2 linked regions of the Homo sapiens genome follow. The protein of the gene in region 2 interacts with the protein of the main gene of each other region in a pairwise test. Each region holds a gene or a part of one and is shown on either strand. Other genes may lie near its edges.

Region 1 (4,599 bases), on a different chromosome or scaffold from region 2:
CAACTACTTGTCAGGCTGAGGCAGGAGAATCACTTAAACCCGAGATTTGGAGGTTGCAGTGAGCCAAGATCATGCCACTGCACTCCAGCCTGGGCGACAGAGCGAGACTCTGTCTCAAATAAACAAAAAGAAAGAAAGAAAGAAAAGACAGGGCAGAGGTGAAGGAAGGCAAGGTGCCCAGATGGGTGTGTCATACTCACTGGGTGCTGCTCCTCATAATAAGCCGCCACTGTCTCCAGGTAGCCCTCTTTGAAGTCGTCCTGGGGAGAGGAGGGCACAGGGGGTTCATGCTGCTCCTGCCTGCCCCCTTCCCACTGTGGCCCCCACTGGTCCAGGTGATTCCCAAGGGGACCCGGGGCCCAGACCCAGTGTCCTGTGGAGCCTAAGACCCAGGGACTAAGCTTGGTGGAGGGGGAGGCCACGGCTCACCTCCAGCTCTGCCAGGCTCGACATCACCTGTTAGGAACAAAGCACTCGGTTCCAGGCCCAAGCCTCCTCTGCACCCCACATCAGTCAGTCCTCAAGCCCAGTGAGTCCTCAGCTCCCACACACCCCGAACTGGGCCCAGCCAGGGGCCCGGGCCACGTCTGGCACCCCTGTTGTTTCCTCAAGGAGCCCTGGGGCTTGGATGCCTCCCTCAGTCTCCCCGGGCGTCCAGATCCCCCACCCGCCCACTCACTGCCACCCAGGTGCAAGCATTTGCCCACGGTAAGGGGTGAGGGAGCCTGTGGGTCCCTCTTCATCCTTCTCACCCTGAGCCCCACACAGGGTGGAGTGCCTGGGGGCGGGGACATGTGACCTGGTGCCTGAGGGGAAATCCACCCACCTGTCCACGTCCTGATTCTGCATTTTGCATTTTATCATAAAATCTTTCTATGGCCTGGTGCTGTGAAGAGAGGCAGAGTTGGCACCAAAGGGCCGGATCCTTGTCCCTCCAGGGTCCCAGGTGTCCCACAGTGTCCTCAGTGTCACACGCTGAGACCCAGGCCCCCAACCCCTGAGCAGAAGTAGGGAGGAGCATTACCATTCGGGCCTTCAGCTTCTTCATGTCATCAGAGAGGACCTGCGGAAATAACGGTGACACTCAGTCTCCATGTGTCACCTTAACCTTTCCTCCAGGATAATTTATACACACACACACACACACACACACACACACACACACACAGAGACACATGGCAGAGGTACAGGATAAGAGGAGACAGCAGTCCCAGGAGCCCCTCACAGCCTGGAAAGACCGGCCAGGGCTGTCCTCGAAACGACTCAGAAAGCGCTTCTCTCAGGAGCCGGCTCAGCTGGGCAGGCCCAAGAGCAGGGCCAGCATGGGCCTAGGTGACCCCTCCTCACAAGAGCAGGGCCTGCGTGGGCCTAGGTGACCCCTCCTCACAAGAGCAGGGCCTGCGTGGGCCTAGGTGACCCCTCCTCACAAGAGCAGGGCCTGCGTGGGCCTAGGTGACCCCTCCTCACAAGAGCAGGGCCTGCGTGGGCCTAGGTGACCCCTCCTCACAAGAGCAGGGCCTGCGTGGGCCGGGGTGTCCTCCCTGCACACACACACCCCCCCATGTACACACACGGGAGGATGGACACTGTCCTGGAGCAGGCTGGCTCAGCTGGGTTTCCCACAACCACTATGGTCCCAGGTGAGAGTTGGCCAAGGAAAAAATGTTTAGGGACATGACAATTGAGAAGGTAACAGCAGCCATTCCTCTCTGATGAGCTGATTAATATTTGGGGTGCCAGGTAGGTCCACCCTACAACCTGCCACTCTTCCCGACTGCCAACATGCAGACCCACAGGTCCCGGGCCATTCCTGCCTGCAGACACGTGGCTGCATCCACAGAGGCCAGAGGCACCCCACAGAATCCCCGCTGAGCCCCCACGTCAAGGGCCTAGTCTCGGGGGTGACATGCCTGGTTTCCCCCACTATAGAGTGGTGACAGTCACCCACAGAGTGCGCAGGGCCTGGGGACATATTCTGGGCAGGGCAGCTGTCTGCACACTTTCAGGCAGCGATGGTCCCATCCCGCTAGCCTGATTTCCCAGGAACCAGGGTGAAAGCAGCACCGTGCCGACATGCGGGAGCCATGTGTCCTCCGGGTCACTGTCCTGAACCTGAGCCAGGCCACATCATGGAAACCCCTATTGTCACAGGCCGAAGAGCTCCCTGGAGGGTGTGGTGGGCCTAGCATTTGCGGTGGGGCAGTGGTAGAGGATGGGAGGTCGGAGGGAACCCAGGAAAGGAGGAAGAGACACCAGGACCCACACAGGCCTTGCTCTTGGGCCCACCCAGCTGAGCCGGCCTCTGAGAGAAGCATTCTCCGAGTCGTTTCCAGCAGAGCCCTGCCCCACCCCTGCCCCGGGCTTTCCGGGCTGTGAAGGGCTCCTGGGACAGGTGCTCCCTCTCATCCACACCCCTGCCGTTCTCCAGCGCCCCCGACACATATGACCTCCAGCGCCTCCACTGACACTCTCACCCCATCACTATCCTCCTGCCGCTGGGTGCCCCTGACTGAGCCCTGACACACAGGCACCTCGGGAAATACTGAGGGCACCCGCACCCTTACGGTCTGTTTTCAGACATGCCCACAAAAGCACACGCAGCCTCTCACTCACCTTCGGGAAGCACATGGCGGCCAAAAGTTCAAGGAGCCAAGGCCTGCTGGCGAGGAACAGGTGTGAGGAAAAGAAAGTGTCTCAGAGAAGCACCCTCCTCCCCAGAGGGTCCTCACCTTCGGGGACCCCAACTCCCCACCTGAGATGACCCAGCTCCACTGAGACAGTCACCTTCTGCACGCAGTCTTCCTGGCACAAATACTCAGCTGGTTTTATGGGGAAAGTGGGGGGTAGTGGGCGGAGCCTCTCTCAGGGCAGGAGGCCTTGCTGAGTGCGTGAAAAACAGACAGAGACAGAGACAGAGACAGAGACAGACAGAGATGGAGACTTACCCGAGAGAGACAGAGGTCTGGGGTCCCTGGGAGGAATGAGGGTCCGTCCCTGGCTGGGCCCCTGCTCCCTCTGAGCTGGGGTGGGAGTCTCTGAGCCCAGGAATGGGCTGCTTTCCCCACCCCACCAGCCTGAGAGTGGGGAGGGGCAGAGGGAAAGTCCAGACTCGGGACAGCTGGCTGGGGAAACTCCCTGAGTACAGGAAGGTGACGTCAGCCAAGTGGGATCCAAGGACAAAGGAATTTGGACCCTGTCCTTGCATGAGGTGTGCCCCGGCTCCAGAGGCCAGAGAAACTTCTGGATCAGAAGGAGGCAGGAACTGCCGGACCTAAGAGGGGCGCCGTGAGGGCAGGGGCCTGTGCACGTTGGAGGGGTGGCTAGTGGTGATGTAGATCTACCTGTGGGACAAGATAGGACCCTCTGCAGGGTGGAAGGCATCCTGCCGGCTGTCTGAGCTTGGCTGACCAGGTCCTTCTGACCCTTCTGGGCCAAGGCAAGGCCATCTGGGGCCGAAGGTCACTGGTCTCAGCAATCTTGGGGCTCCCCTACGGGCTCTTCTAGCTCCACGGGTTCTGACCCTCCAGCCTGGCTGGGCCTCCCACCTCCTCCTCACGGCCCCCAGCCCCCTTCCCCCAGCTGAGCACAACCACGCCCTTGCCTTTGGGATGGTTTCCTGGGGCCAAACTAAGGAAGTACCACGACAAGGGGCCCTAAGTCGAAGACGTCTCTTCCCTCACGATCTGCAGGCTGGAGGTCCAAGGTCAATGTGGGCAGCGTGGGGTCCTTCTGAGGGCCCGGAGCTGGGATTCTGTTCAGGTTTCTCCTGCCCTTGTAGATGGCCATCTTCATCTTCATCACGTTCTGCCTGGGTGTGACTGTCCCCCTTTCCCCTTTCCAAAGGACACCAGTCATATTGAAATAGGGTCCACCCTAGGCCGGGCGCAGTGGGTCACGCCTGTAATCCCAACACTTTGGGAGGCCGAGGCGGGCAGATCACCTAAGGTCAGGAGTTCTAGACCAGCCTGGCCAACATGGTGAAACCTTGTCTCTACTAAAAATACAAAAATTAGCCTTGCGTGGTGGCCGGCACCTGTATTCCCAGCTACTCGGGAGGCTGAGGCAGGAGAATCACTTGAACCCGGGAGGCGAATGTTGCAGTGAGCTGAGATGGTGCCACTGCACTCCAGTCTGGGGGACAACAATGAAAATTCCCCTCGGAAAAAAAAAAAAAAGAAGTAGGATCCACCCCAGTGACCTCATTGTACCTTAAGTACCTCCATAAAGACCCTGTTTCCAAATAAGGGCATATTCTGAGGTCCTGGGGCTTAGGAATTCAGCATGGATGCAATGTATCCCATTATATTCTCAAAGGGGACTCGGAGAGACAGAACCTATAAAACACGCTCCATGGAGAAATCTTCCCTTGGGTGAAGTAGACAACGGTTGTCACCTGCCTGCCACTTAGGAGTCCATTCCACTGTGCGCAACCGCCTTTCCACATACAGGATGTCCAGATCTTTCCCTGAGTATCCTCTGAATTGTAGTGGGAGACAGAAGGAAGCCACTCCTGCACCAGCTAAAAGTCATGCTTTAGGCTTCAGCTCCAACCCTAGCCCCTCATGACTCTCAAAGGCCACCATCTGAAGACATCTTGGG
Region 2 (3,803 bases):
TCCCTGGCCCACCGTGGGGAGGCAAGGTGCCTGACTGAGCGGGGGGCTGGAAGGGTATCGGCTCACCTCAGGGGCGATATAGTCAGGGGTGCCGCAGAAGGTGCTGGCCCGGCTCTCCCCGAATATGTTCTCTTTGCACATCCCAAAGTCGGCAATCTTGATGTGGCCATCCCGGTCCAGCAGCACATTGTCCAGTTTGAGGTCCCTAAGGACAGGGGACAGGTAAGAGTCAGCAGGGGACATTTCTTCTCCTTCCAACCCTGCCCCCCATGTCCTAATTTTCAGCCGTATTAGTCCAGGACTGTCCCCAAGGGTACAAGGGAATGAGAAACAGAAAAGGAAGCAGAAGGAGAAAGAGATCCTAAAAACAGGTGCTTCTTGCAAGTCCCCTACTGTGTGCTAAACGCTGGGCATACACTGCCCTACTTCCTGAAGCCCAAATGGGGCTCAAACAGGTGATGTCACTCGCCCAGGGTCCCCTAGCAGTCAGCAGCAGAAGTGACCCCCAGGTTCAGGTTTGTCTACTTCCCACAGGCAGAGACCATGTCTATATTTAGTAATTAGTCATTTGAGTATATACTTAATGCATATGGGAACTAGAAATGGCAAACAGTACAAAGTCTACCTTCCACTGAGCTCAATCATGAGGCTCTCCTTAGAGCAATTCTAGGCGTGGACAAGCATATGGCAGCATGCAGCTCGCTCCCACCTTTTTTTTTTTTTTTTTTTTTTTTTTTGAGACACAGTCTCATTCTGTCACACAGGCTGGAGTGCAGTGGCATGATCTCAGCTCACTGCAACCTCCGCCTCCCGGGTTCAAGCAATTCTCCTGCCTCAGCCTCCTGAGTAGCTGAGATTACAGGCATCCACCACCATGCCCAGCTAACTTTTGTATTTTTTAGTAGAGACAGGGTTTCACCATGTTGGTCAGGCTGGTCTCGAACTCCTGACCTCGGGTGATCTGCCCACCTTGGCCTCCCAAAGTGCTGGGATTACAGGCGTGAGCCATCGCGCTCAGTCTCCCTCCCACGTTTTAAAGGCTGAATGCTAATATTCGATATACACTTTCCCACAGGTTGTTTTTCCACTTAACAACATATCTTGGCATTATCCCACATCAGTATACAGAGCCTGACCTCAGCCTTTTTGGTGGGTGTACAGTTCCCACCATAGGATGGAATCATAACTTATTAGATGAGACTTTATGGAAGGAGTCCCTTCTGGCAGAAGCTTAGATGACTCGATGGGGCTTCAGAGCGAGACTGACGGCTCCAAGGATGGGTGGGGCGATGGTGTCAAATATGAGCAGTGAGTTCCTAGTTCCTGAAGCTGAGCCAGCCTCAAATGGTGGCCACAGGAATGCTAACACCAGGGTGGGAGGCATAGGCAAATACCCAGCTAAAGATTGATTTCCAGCAGAGAAGGAACTGGAGTTGGGGGGATCCTGCTTGGAGCATTTCAGAAGATATGATGGGGCTGGAGCCTCCCCTCCCAAGAGCCCCCGCTGCCCTCACCCCCGCACCTGTAAATGATGCCCTTGCTGTGTAGAAACTGCAGTCCACACATTATCTCAGCGGCATAAAACCTGGGCAAGAGAGAGGGATAAAGTGTTCCGGGATCTCTGCCGAGCAGCCTCTGCTTCTCCTCGGGCCCTCAACCCCACTTCCAGGAGCAAGAAATGCTGCAAATAACTCCATGGACCACCTGAGCATGATCAAGTACATCTTGTATCAGGCAAGTGGGGGCTGGCAGCCCAGGCAGAAAGTTCTGAAGGGAAAGCTCTCAGTGAGCCAATTCTCTAAGAGTGTATGCATTTACATGCATGTACATATGTGTTTGCATGCATGCACACACACACACACACATACACGGTTAGTTTGGGGTAAGGGGCATGTGAATGGGGAGAAGCAGGTCTGGGGGCCACGCACCAGGGTCCTGTGTCCTGTGTCATGCAGGACCACCATTTGCAAGGCTGCCCTGGCTGTGGCCCACGGAGCGGCCAGGACCCAGAGTATTTGCGCTGCGCACCCAGCCGCAGTTCACTTGCCACCCATGGCTTCCTGTGTGGTGCCGACCCAGGCTACCCCCACATCTCCCCAGTTGCCGCTCTAGCCCAGGCTGGCTTTTCTAGGGAGAGGGAAGAAGGCATGGAGGGCAGACTGGAAGTGGGCTCTGAGCCAGTAGCCCTTCCTCCACACTGGGCCCTTCCCCACCATGGCCCTTACGTACGTGGCACGGTAGAGTTCAAAGCGGCCTTTGTCCTGGATGTGGTACATCAGGTCCCCCCCGTTGAGGAACTCCATCACAAAGAACAGGTGGTCCTGGGGTGGGAAGGGTGGTGAGCAGGGGTGAGGAATAGGCAGGAGGCTCCCTCACTGAGGGCCACTGGGGCCAAGCCCCAACAGGAAACAGCAGGGACAGGCCCTGGCTGAGGTGGACGACTCTGCCCTGGGAGGCATGAGGGGGGAAAGCATGGCCCTGCCTTAAGTGGCCTGAAGGGGAGACACAGCCCTGACTGAGGGGGGCTGAGGAGCTGTGGGACATGGCTGTGGCATGGGGTGGTGACGGCAGGAGGCCCGGGCACCTTGGTCTGGAAGGTGCAGATGAGGTGGGTGAGAAAGGGATTCTCTGCGGCAAGTGTCAGCACCCGCTTCTCAACCATGGTGCACTCCACGTCGTCGTCGATCAGGACCACATCCTTCTTGAGGGCCTTGATGGCAAAGTACTCTCCTCTGCCCTTCAGCTCTCCAAGCAGCACCTGATGGGGAGACACGGGTGCTGAGCAGGTGAGGACGGGGCAGGGGCCACAGCCCGATTCACAGACTCCCACCTCAGCCACCTAAGCGGGAAGAAGCCAGGGTGGGGTGGGAAGCAGGTGCCCGGCTCACAGCCCTCACCTTCCCGAAGCTGCCTTTGCCCAGGACCTTGTGGAAGATGAAGTTGTTGATGTTGCACTTGCTGCTGCCCTCCCAGATCTTGCCGTAGGTCCCACTGTTGTCTGCCCGAGAGATGGCACCTCCTCAGATCGGGGTCTCAGTCTACACAACTCCCCTCCCCCGGGGCCTGGGGTAGGCTGGGGGAAGGGGCCTCAGAGAGGAAGGGGCTCGCTCCCCAGGACCGGTGGTTCCTTCCATGTCTCACTTGACAATGGAAGGGAGGACAGTCCCCTTTCTTTGGCCTCAGGGGGAATAAAAACCGTAATGGGGCAATGGACCCAGCTTCACCTTGCATGTCCTCCCCAGCAACTCCGGTCTTCTTCTCGAAACCCTGATATATCCCAACAGGCTCTGAGGAGGCTGAGTCTGATCTCCGGGAGGCTCTCTGGGGAGGGAGCAGAGGTGGGGGGCCAGATGGTCAGACCATTATCAGAACTCCCAGCCCAGAAGGAAGACTCCCAGGTATAACTCCACCCTTAACACCAAGAGGAGACAACAGGGGCACAGCCCAGGCCCCCTACTCGGGCTGCGTGTACACACACGCACTCTTCCAGGAGCCCAGAGAAGCCTTGGTGGTCTGAAAGGCTCTGATTACAAACAGAAGTTTTGTAAACGGAACCCTACCTTCCCAACCACTCACTCGATAGATTTTATTTGACTATTTAGCTTCATTTCTGATTGATTCTAAAATTTTACCTTTAGGTTTTGTGGCATCCCTCAAGCCCCCCCCACATACAAACGTCCACACCCAAAGTCTTAGTTCAAAGTGTTCCAACACCCACTCCTGTGGTCCCCAGGTTCACCCTCAAGTAAAGAACTGCCTGAATAATGAATTTCTTATGAAAAAAAGCCCCCCTCCCTCTGCTG

What was found.
Region 1: the proteins of PRKCD (region 2) and IL32 interact in binary tests that used the Homo sapiens proteins (3 or more experiments, as listed by UniProt).

Annotation. Positions count from the first base shown.
Region 1 is NC_000016.10:3,063,841-3,068,439, reverse strand, and holds the start of IL32 (interleukin-32), read right to left. Parts: upstream 2,801-4,599; 5' UTR 2,753-2,800; exon of another isoform or gene 2,657-2,752; 5' UTR 2,629-2,656; coding exon 2,614-2,628; intron 1,064-2,613; coding exon 1,025-1,063; coding exon of another isoform or gene 887-1,024; coding exon 827-886; intron 457-826; coding exon 430-456; intron 261-429; coding exon 201-260; intron 1-200.
Region 2 is NC_000003.12:53,185,122-53,188,924, reverse strand, and holds part of PRKCD (protein kinase C delta type), read right to left. Parts: intron 3,322-3,803; coding exon 3,225-3,321; intron 2,999-3,224; coding exon 2,898-2,998; intron 2,759-2,897; coding exon 2,585-2,758; intron 2,322-2,584; coding exon 2,230-2,321; intron 1,586-2,229; coding exon 1,523-1,585; intron 206-1,522; coding exon 67-205; intron 1-66.